3 separate regions of the Homo sapiens genome follow, and regions 2 and 3 are each reported to be linked to region 1. The links are microRNA targets in miRTarBase. Many come from high-throughput screens and were not tested one by one. Region 1 holds a microRNA gene; each other region holds the end of a gene's coding sequence.
Evidence for each region. The annotated mature microRNA hsa-miR-4486 reads GCUGGGCGAGGCUGGCA and lies in region 1 at 2,062-2,078, shown strand. An mRNA with a match to its seed (bases 2 to 7 or 8) in the 3' UTR can be bound and repressed. Matches are read on the target gene's strand: a 7mer-m8 pairs with bases 2 to 8, a 7mer-A1 pairs with bases 2 to 7 and ends in A, and an 8mer does both.

Region 1 (3,258 bases):
TCAGCTACCCTGCCCCTACACTTCATACCTATCTTCTCAGCTTTGCCTTTTTCTTCTTGGCACCTTGTCTGACATACTATCATATTTGTTTTGTTGGTTACCCACTCCGAACTGGAAGGTCTTTGAAGTCAGGGATTTTGACCATTTTGTTAATGATGTTTTCTCCAGCGCTCAGCACACAGCCAAGCACATAGTATGGACTCAATGACTGTGGCATGCGTGAGTATATAGGTGGGAAGGAGGATTTCCTGGCGGGTTCTGATTTTAGAATTTACCTGGTACAGCTGAGCTTCACTGAGCTGCTACCCTGTGCCAGCCGCGGGCAGTGCCTGACATCTGCCATTTCACTTCATCTTCACAGAAGCCTTATGGATGGGAAAGCTAGGTCTTAGAGAGATTAAGAAACTTATCTGGTCACCAGCTTATAGGTAGGTGGTAGAGCCTGAGGACTGTGCTTTCTTCTCCTGGACAGAAAGTGCTGCCTGAGCCCTCCCCTGTACCCAGCCTGTCAGGGAGGCCTCCCTGGGTGGTTTCTGAGCTGGCTGCTTTGCAGGGCTAGAAGGCCCATCCCTCCTCACCTGCCTGTGTCTGTGGGAGGCTCTTGGCAAGGGTGCTGTGTCAGGCGGCCCAAGTGCTTTCAGCACTTGGGGGTGGCAGGCTAATTTACTGGCCTGCTGAGCAGCTGGTGGATGACTGGGGATTGTCTGAAGTCTGCCTAGAACCATGGCCTGGGGCAGGGCTCCTTCCAGCAACTTCCCTGGAGAGCTGGCTGCAAGGCAGGGCCAAACCAGCCATCATGATAGTGTGAAGGGCATTTTCTGTCAAAAGAGGATGTTGGACAAGAGTTGGAAAGACTTGAGTTCTGATCCTGGCTTTGCCACTAGCTAGTTGTATAAAACTGAGCAAGTTACTGAGCATTCCTGGTTCCCACTGCTTACAAAATGGGAGCAGTAATCATGCTTACCTCCCAAACTTGTTGGGAAAATATATGCAATGTGATTAGCCCAGGTGCAAAAATAAATGTTAGATATTTTATGTTTATTATGATTTATTATTAGCTACAGCCCCCCTCATCTGTAAAATGAGAGGTTTCATTCAGTAACCACAGGCCTGGCACTATTGAGCAGTAGGTGCTCAATAAATGTTAATTCCCTTCCTAGTCCCTTATTCTTCCTTTAGCATCAGATTCCTGGCCTGTGTTGTCCCTGGGGCTCCAACACTCCTGGCCCTGGCCTATAGGTTTTCCGTGGGCTCATGGGTAATGAGCCATCTTCCCAGGGCAGTGGGGCTAAGTGCTTTGGTGGACATTTTGGAGCCATTGTATTAGAAACCCCCTCTTTTTCCTTCTTTACTTCCTTCCTTCCATCCCGTTTATTTTTGTTGATCACCTATTAAGTGCCAAACATAGTGAATACAGCTGTGAGCAAGACAAGGTTCCTGCTACCGTGGAGCATAGGTCCAGTTAGAATTAGGTAGAGAGAAAGGAAATGAACAACCATGCAAGAAAATAAACTCTTTGAAAAGTAGAAAATAGAATGGTGGAACAGAAAGTGATGAGTGTGGGGAGAATAGCAAAGCCACCTTAGATGGGGAGTCAGGGAAGACATCACAAAGGAAACAACATTTGAAGCAGGACTTGAAAGATCAGAACAGGCCAACCATACTCAATTGGGCGAAGGGGTTTCCTGCCGAGGAAATAGCACAGGTGAAGGCCCTGAGGAGGGATGGAGTTTAGCTGGTGCCCCTATACTTCCTAATGGGAAGTGCCCAGTAAAGACACAGCTTTGCACTTCCAGCCCAGGCAAAGCAATCAGCCTGCATCTTCAAGGGTTGGCTGCACTTAAGATCCGGGGTGCTGCCAGGATGTTCTTTTTGCAGTTAATTTGCTGCAACTGGCAGAGGTTAATCATGTCCACATTCCTCAAGGCCCCTGCCAAAGCTGGCCCTTCTCACAGATGCTGGTTTAAATTAGAGGGGTTCTTAGCAGCAGACTAGATTTAGCAGTGATTAACCCCAAACTGGTCCTATTGCCTTGCCCTCCTGATGGGCAGGTGGAAGCATGCTGGGCGAGGCTGGCATCTAGCACAGGCGGTAGATGCTTGCTCTTGCCATTGCAATGAGAAAGGAGCCCATCAGCTCTCCTTCTAAGCCTGGGCTCCTACAGCAGCCAGAATGCCAGTCAGACCCATCCACGGTGCTCCACGCCTGGCCCTAGCCTTGCTCTTGCCTCTTCCTTGCTGTGCACATTCCTGCTCCACTCCACACCTTTGCCTGCCTTGTCTCTGTACCCGCAGGAGAAGCTCTACTCATTTTTCCAGACTGTGCTCAGATTCTACCCCCCTATGCAAGTACCTCCTCAGACACCCCTGGGGAAATTCACCTTTTCTTCCCCATTCTTCTAGTTTCTCTTTGCACATAAGCCCTTTAAGGCATTGGTCATCATCTATATTGTGTTGGGGAGACTGAGTTCCAACTAAAGTGGGAGCTCCCGATGGCCAGGGATCCATGTCGTTCATCTCTGCAGCTACAGGACCTAGCATGAGCTTTGGCATCTCATTCATTCAGCAAATGTGTATTGAAGGTCACTGTACCAGGCACTATGAGAGGTAAGGGAATCACAGCTGTGGACAAGGTGTGTTCCCTAGTTTTAAGTTGTAGCCCATTGTAACACAGAGGGCTGAGCAGATTACGGTGTGGACTCTAATAGATGCCCAGTTGAGCCTGGGTGGTTCAGGATGGCTTTTTTAAGTCATACAGAGTGAGGAATCTGAGGCTCAAAGGAGTGAAATAACTGGCCCAAGATCTCACATCTAGTGTATGGCAGAAAAAGTGCTCAAATCCAGGCCTAAGTGCCCTTTGCACACAGCCATTTGTGGAATGGGTCCTCCTCTGTCTACACTCTCCATTCCAAGCTAGCATACTCCTTTCTGATCCTCAGCCACAAAATAAACAGGTAAGGGATCAGACCCACTTGGCCAGAGACTGGGCAGCCTTGCCGCATTCTGATGCAAAAACCTGTTTTCAAGCTACTTCAAACTTTTGATGGTTCTTGAAGTCATAGAGAGGCTTTCAGCTGAATCCAAGGCAAGCGAACAGATTTCCCATCTGCAGGGTATTTTGAAACCACTCGCTTCTTACTCATGTTTCATTTGTTTGTTTTTCTATTACAAAAATAATGCATACTAATTGTAGAGAATTTGGGGAGAAATACAAATCACCCATAATTCCACCACCCAGAAATAACCATTGTTACTATTT
Region 2 (3,242 bases), not on the chromosome of region 1:
TAACCCTGCCCTGGTAATAATGATAGTCGGTAGCCTAGTCAAGGCTCTGGAAAGCCAGGAAAGGAACTGACTTTGCTTTTTTGAACACAACTTTCCCTTTCCACACAATACCTATCAGCAAGTCTTCCTCAGATCACACCTTGAAAGCGTGAAATAAGCATTTGAGGGCCATCTGGTGGTCCAGGGCTCCGCTTTAGCCTTGCCCATACCTGGACCGGGTCTTCCTCCACTGGCTGGGTGACTCCAGACAGTGGACCTACATTGCTCAGCTTCAGATTTCTTCTTGGAAAAACAAGACTTTCAACAGGGCATGCTTCACAGGGCAGCCCCTTCAGTGAAGGGACTGTCTACGTGGAGTGTTTGCACCAGAGCCTGGTACATAGTAAGGCTGCAAGAGATGTTTGCTGTTCAATCACAGGCCAGAACCAGCGTGTTTTCATGGCTCAGCTGGGTCATTAGTCTCAAAACCCAAACAGTGACAGAGGCTGGTCGCCAGAGCTAAGAAAGCTGTTCCGGATGTGCTGCAGTGTCCCACGGTCGCGGGAGCCGTGGAGCTCACATGAGCAGTGGGGTGGGTCGGAGGGTTTTCTACAAAGTGTTAGGTCCATCCAGCTTGTTGCTTTCTTTCTAGATCATCGCCGCCCAGGAAGAAATGCTAAAGAAAGAGCGAGAACTGGAAGAAGCAAGGAAAAAACTGGCCCAAATCCGCCAGCAGCAGTATAAGTTTTTACCCACCGAGCTGAGGGAAGATGAGGGCTAAAGGTGCGAGCCCAGATGGCGAGCCCCAGGGGATGGCCCTGGCTGAACTGGACAGACAGTGTTCCTGAGAGGCTGGGCACTTAGCTGGAAACCGCCCACCTCCCTCCCGGGTGAGCCTGGAGCCCTGCGTGCTTGTTCTCACATCTCTGTCCCGTCGGCACTGGCTGCATGATCGTGATGTCACACGGTACAATGTCCTACCCACAACTCCTCTGCCGCCTCCCCTCATGCCTCACCGTGTCTCAGGAGAGAGGGGTGCACGTTTCATGGACTGTTACCAACAAAGAAAAGTCAGTATTATGTTGTTCTCAGACACTTTGGCTTTTGTTGGTCCTTCTCTTAGGCCTGCTCCTGGACCTCTTTATGATATTGTGATAGGGAAAAAAATCATTGACGTCATAGAATATTCTTCTTCCTCTCAGGAGAAGACGGAAGCTGGAGTTGGACATGGTTCATAAAAGCCAGAAACACAAACCCGTGTGGACTCCGGGAGGGTGACTCAGGTCCTCCTTCCATGTCTTGAGCACTGGCTCACCCAGGGGGTGAAAAATTCCCGCCCCTGTTTGCACGCTTTCTTGCCTCCGTGTGTAAGCTCCTTGTACAACCCAGACCCATCTTGTATTTTGTGGCCCAGAAAACTGAACGATTATTTTGTTCCTCCGTAGTCCAAAGGGCAGAGTTGCGGAAGGCCGTCGGGGCTTGGTGAGCAGGGGCTGTAATACAGTCTGTGGGCTCCTTACCCTGCAGAGGCTGTTTCAGCTCACACAGAGTCATCCACACAAACCCACGGCTCCCAGTTGACAGTCAGTGGAATGCTCGTCTCCTTAGCGTCCAGGGTGGGGATTCTGCTGGAATAAAGAGCTTCCTCAGTGACTCATCTTTAGGTCCCACGCTGGTTTCTGTGCCTTCAGAATGGTCACAAGCCCGGATTGGAAAGGATCTGCTTACAAACCTGTCCCCTGTCCTCCAACCCAAAACGCCTTTTTTTCTGTCTTAATATCCAGAAAATCTAAATGCATCCTAAAATCAATGTGAACCTTTAACAAGATAGTTTTACTTATTATCACATAAGACATAAGATGTTTTCATTTTCTGGATGTCACACTTCCAGAATTTCATATTTTTCCCCTCTTTTCTTTCCCCTTTTCAGAGCCCTCCCATAGGAAGGGAAGGGCTTGAATTTACCCTTAATCTGCACCTTTAGCCAAGGCAGTGCATGGAAGATGAATGGCTCGTGGGACAGAATCTAATGCCAGGGAGCAGGAGTGTTTGAAAGAATTCATAGTGGGGAAGGTAAAAGTTAATGGAAGTACATGATTTTCAAAACTGGTAACAGTTAAAGGCACTCACCCTCCGCCTCTCTCTCTCTCTCTCTCTCTGGTGTGCTATCATGTCTTGGACTCCATCCACACTATAGTTTCAAAGTTCCACTGACGGGGGAAAGTTGGTGCTTTGGTCCTCCGAAGATGTCACCTTTCGACCTTGCCCGATCTTGTTTCACCAGACTCTAGCCCATGTCATGGTTTTAAAATACATAAACTTCTGACAGCTTCCCATATTTATAAGTTACTTATAAGTGCTGCACGTATTAGAATTTTTTTTTTTCAGACCAGTAAAGTTAGAGAAAAGACGCTGTAAAGGAAAAGCAAGTGAGAGTATGTGTAGGACACTGACAGTGTGTGGGCACCAGTTCTGAAGAGGAGGGGAGCTGCTGGAGCCCTAGCCTGTTGGGGAAAAGCTGGCACACTCTTGGCTCGCCCTCTTTGAGTGGAGCTGATCCAACACCTCATGCCTGCCTTGGCCGGACACTGAGAGGAGGGGCACACGTGCTTCCAGAGACACTCAGGAGTCAGACCCCAATGCTCAGAGTCACAATGTGTTCATGGCCTCCTGTAACAGGACTCTGGGGATCCCCTCTGTGGCCCAGCCCACCCCACCCTCTGCTCTTCTATGCTGTGCCCAGGGCAGCTGCCCTCTTCTGCCTGTGCCCCATCCCATCCTGAAAACCCAGGACCAAGGCAGGGGCAGGCAGCCAGTTCTTCCACCTTGCCTCAGAGTCATTTAAAACCTTTACTGCATTTGATACCAGAAAAGCCTCCAGAGACAAACCAAATGCAAAGGCCTTTCCTTTATAACTCTAAAGAACAGGCATCGAAAGTTTATTTTTGTAGGAGCTATATAAATACTCACCTTTCTGGAGTCGTCCAGTGCTGGGAGCTTTGGGGAGTTTGGTTCTCAGTTATCACCTGGTATGGTCCCAGTTTCTCATCTGTCCTTTCCTCATCCACCCTGCACATGTGTATGTGAACGGCTTCGTGGCCGGTGTGGTGGTTTCTCATTTCATAAGATAGTTGAAGGGCCATGCCTTGTCTGGATGTTATTTAATAGGCACTACTGCGGTGTCCTCAGATGGTACTGAGGGGGCCTTCTGGTCCTTCAAAGGAAAATAACACAGGCATGAGTTCATTTGGGAGTGTGAACTT
Region 3 (3,258 bases), not on the chromosome of region 1:
AAACTTCTTTGACCCAGAAAAATAGCCATTTCTTCATGAAAATTTTATTGTTTCCTAATAGAAAACAAAAACTGCTGTGGCGTTTGAGTATATGTTTTTCTCCTTTTAGGGAATGGCAATGCTCTGTGAAACCATTGAAGAATGTTGGGATCACGACGCAGAAGCCAGGTTATCAGCTGGATGTGTAGGTGAAAGAATTACCCAGATGCAGAGACTAACAAATATTATTACCACAGAGGACATTGTAACAGTGGTCACAATGGTGACAAATGTTGACTTTCCTCCCAAAGAATCTAGTCTATGATGGTTGCGCCATCTGTGCACACTAAGAAATGGGACTCTGAACTGGAGCTGCTAAGCTAAAGAAACTGCTTACAGTTTATTTTCTGTGTAAAATGAGTAGGATGTCTCTTGGAAATGTTAAGAAAGAAGACCCTTTGTTGAAAAATGTTGCTCTGGGAGACTTACTGCATTGCCGACAGCACAGATGTGAAGGACATGAGACTAAGAGAAACCTTGCAAACTCTATAAAGAAACTTTTGAAAAAGTGTACATGAAGAATGTAGCCCTCTCCAAATCAAGGATCTTTTGGACCTGGCTAATGGAGTGTTTGAAAACTGACATCAGATTTCTTAATGTCTGTCAGAAGACACTAATTCCTTAAATGAACTACTGCTATTTTTTTTAAATCAAAAACTTTTCATTTCAGATTTTAAAAAGGGTAACTTGTTTTTATTGCATTTGCTGTTGTTTCTATAAATGACTATTGTAATGCCAATATGACACAGCTTGTGAATGTTTAGTGTGCTGCTGTTCTGTGTACATAAAGTCATCAAAGTGGGGTACAGTAAAGAGGCTTCCAAGCATTACTTTAACCTCCCTCAACAAGGTATACCTCAGTTCCACGGTTGCTAAATTATAAAATTGAAAACACTAACAAAATTTGAATAATAAATCGATCCATGTTTTGTAACAAATTCACTGTGTTATTTAAGGAAAAAAAGGTAAGCTATGCTTAGTGCCAACAATAAGTGGCCATTCGTAAAGCAGTGTTTTAGCATTTCTTGTGCTGGCTTGTAATGTAGGGAAAAAAAGTGCTGTTTTTTGAAAAGATGGTGTCATTTCCCCCTTCTTCCCATGTTTTAAAGCCCCATCTTATATCCAGTTCCCAAAATTTGCATACTTACCTAAGTATTTTTTTTAGGTGTGCTGTGTTTGGGGAATATTTGAAAATTTAAAGCATGATTTAAAATTTTTTAAAGTGAGCTGTGACACTGGAAAGCTCTTCATTTTATCTTTTAAAATAGAGTTTTTTCTATTTATATATGTAAAATTGTAGTGTATTTCTTTTCACCAAACAGTGTGTGGGACATTCTTTATCACTGTTTTAGGATCACCTCAGGAAGTGTCGTTACCCAGAATTCCCCACTGTCTGCTATGAGACTTGTAACTTTATCACTATACTTCTGCTTGGTGCCATCTTGTCAGAGTAATATTTGATGTCTGTGATATGTAAAGAATTATCCTAGGATAAAGATATTAAACTTTAAGCAGATTTCAGATGTTACTGCTTTAAAACAAATCAGGGATAACAAATTAAACGTATAACTTAAAATATGCAATGACATTTAGAGGTAACCAATGTTGATATAGGTAGCATAGCCTAGCCTCCTCCCCAAAATTGCTTTTACAACTAACACTGATACTAATTTAGGATAGTTCATGCCTTATCCTTGCTAAGAAAATGGAATTGATGGTAGGCAGGTGCTAAAGTGCTTTTCAAAACAATATTACGTTAGAATACAATTGGATTCTTCCTCAAATTTATACAGGCCAAAAAGTAAAACATTAATTTTCTGAATTTCCAGATTACCAATCAATTAATCAACAAATAGCCAGTATTATGCTGTGTATTTCTGTCAGGTCATTTTAAAATCCATGTTAATTTTATAAAAGAATTTTTTACATGTCACTGTCAGGAGCTCACTGTGAATGTGTTGTCTTCAAATGGTTATTTAACCACACAGTACACTACATTTTACATATATGTACGTAATCTCTGGGAATAGTAAATTAATTATGTTATTTATAAACAATACATAGGTCAACAGACTTTAAGCAGGGAGGAAAAGAAGAGTAATAGCGTCTGTGTGCTGCAGACCATTCAGAACTGTCACGTGTGTCCCCATGGTCTCATTCATTGTATTCCTAGCAATTCCCTTTTCAATGTTGAGTTCACCTCTTTATTTCACAAAGTACTTGGTCTCTCAATTTCTTGATCTGGTTTTGCTTCCATTTAAAAACTAATCAAGAAGGGAAAATATTGAGAATGTGCATACAAGAAAATCATTAATTTCCTGAAGATGAATTTCTACCTGTTGTGAACATTTAACTTTCTTTTTAAAAGTTAAACAAAAATAAACAAGGGATATTATGATGAATGTTTGGCTTATGTGAGTACTAGAGATAAAATTTTTAAACCCAGTTATTCACAATATAAAATGTTTTCAAGTTAGAAAAAATTTTTAGAAATCCTGGGTATTGTATTTAACTGTAGCTAACCAATTTTAAAACTTGTATTCTTTTGAGAACTATTATTAATAGAAAAACTTTTTATAAGCAGTAAAATAAGAATGTTCCAGTGACTACCTGTCCTTATACCTAGTCTTGTTAAAACTTTCTTTTGCAGGGTATTTAGTGTTTGGTTTACAGTCAGTGCAGAGTGGGCAAGTTAACAGAAAGTTTGAGCTAGAGATACTGGAAAAAAAAAAGATCAAAGAATGAGAAAAATGGTGATCCATTTTGGGGCAAACTGAGACCCCCCAAATAACTCTTTCCTCATGTGTATGGTGCTCCTCATGACTCGTCTTGTATTTTGCCTTTCTGATACCCATCAGAACTGCTGCTGCTCTAACTTATACTCTTTACCTTGCCCAGATCTCCGCGTAAGGAATGCTTTATGATCAACTTGCCATAGGACTGATGGATTAACCAGTGTTCGGCTTTATTTGAAGTCTATGCCCTGCACAGCTCTTGTATGTATTTTAGATGCTAGAAGTTTTTTTAGCATGTGATGTGTGATTCTTGTTTGAATTCTAGGTACCTTGTGAATTCCAGAAAAAGAGACTGTGCTTCACGATTGTTAGTCCCATGAACTTGCACTATCTATCTTTCATGGTGATGTTTTGAAAATACAATCAGGAAAAAACCCAACACCTTTGGAATTTAAAATAGAATCATATCATGAAATTTAAAAAG

Region 2: miRTarBase lists TLN2 as a target of hsa-miR-4486. Seed matches in the 3' UTR shown: 7mer-A1 at 769-775 and 7mer-A1 at 1,388-1,394.
Region 3: the mRNA of ACVR2A is a reported target of hsa-miR-4486. Seed matches in the 3' UTR shown: 7mer-A1 at 2,932-2,938.

What each region holds. Positions count from the first base shown.
Region 1 is chr11:19,573,253-19,576,510 of GRCh38, forward strand. It overlaps MIR4486 (microRNA 4486), which reads left to right and starts at 2,058; the gene lies at 2,058-2,120. It also overlaps a transcript of NAV2 not described here.
Region 2 is chr15:62,839,851-62,843,092 of GRCh38, forward strand. It overlaps TLN2 (talin 2), which reads left to right. Exons shown (of 59, transcript NM_015059.3): 59 at 632-3,242. The coding sequence ends at 760. LOC105370854 (a long non-coding RNA gene) reads right to left here. Exons shown (of 7, transcript XR_007064671.1): 4 at 2,950-3,242. Among named protein-coding and RNA genes, the nearest start is that of MIR190A, 18 kb to the left of the region's middle.
Region 3 is chr2:147,926,971-147,930,228 of GRCh38, forward strand. It overlaps ACVR2A (activin A receptor type 2A), which reads left to right. Exons shown (of 11, transcript NM_001616.5): 11 at 110-3,258. The coding sequence ends at 304. Among named protein-coding and RNA genes, the nearest start is that of ACVR2A, 84 kb to the left of the region's middle.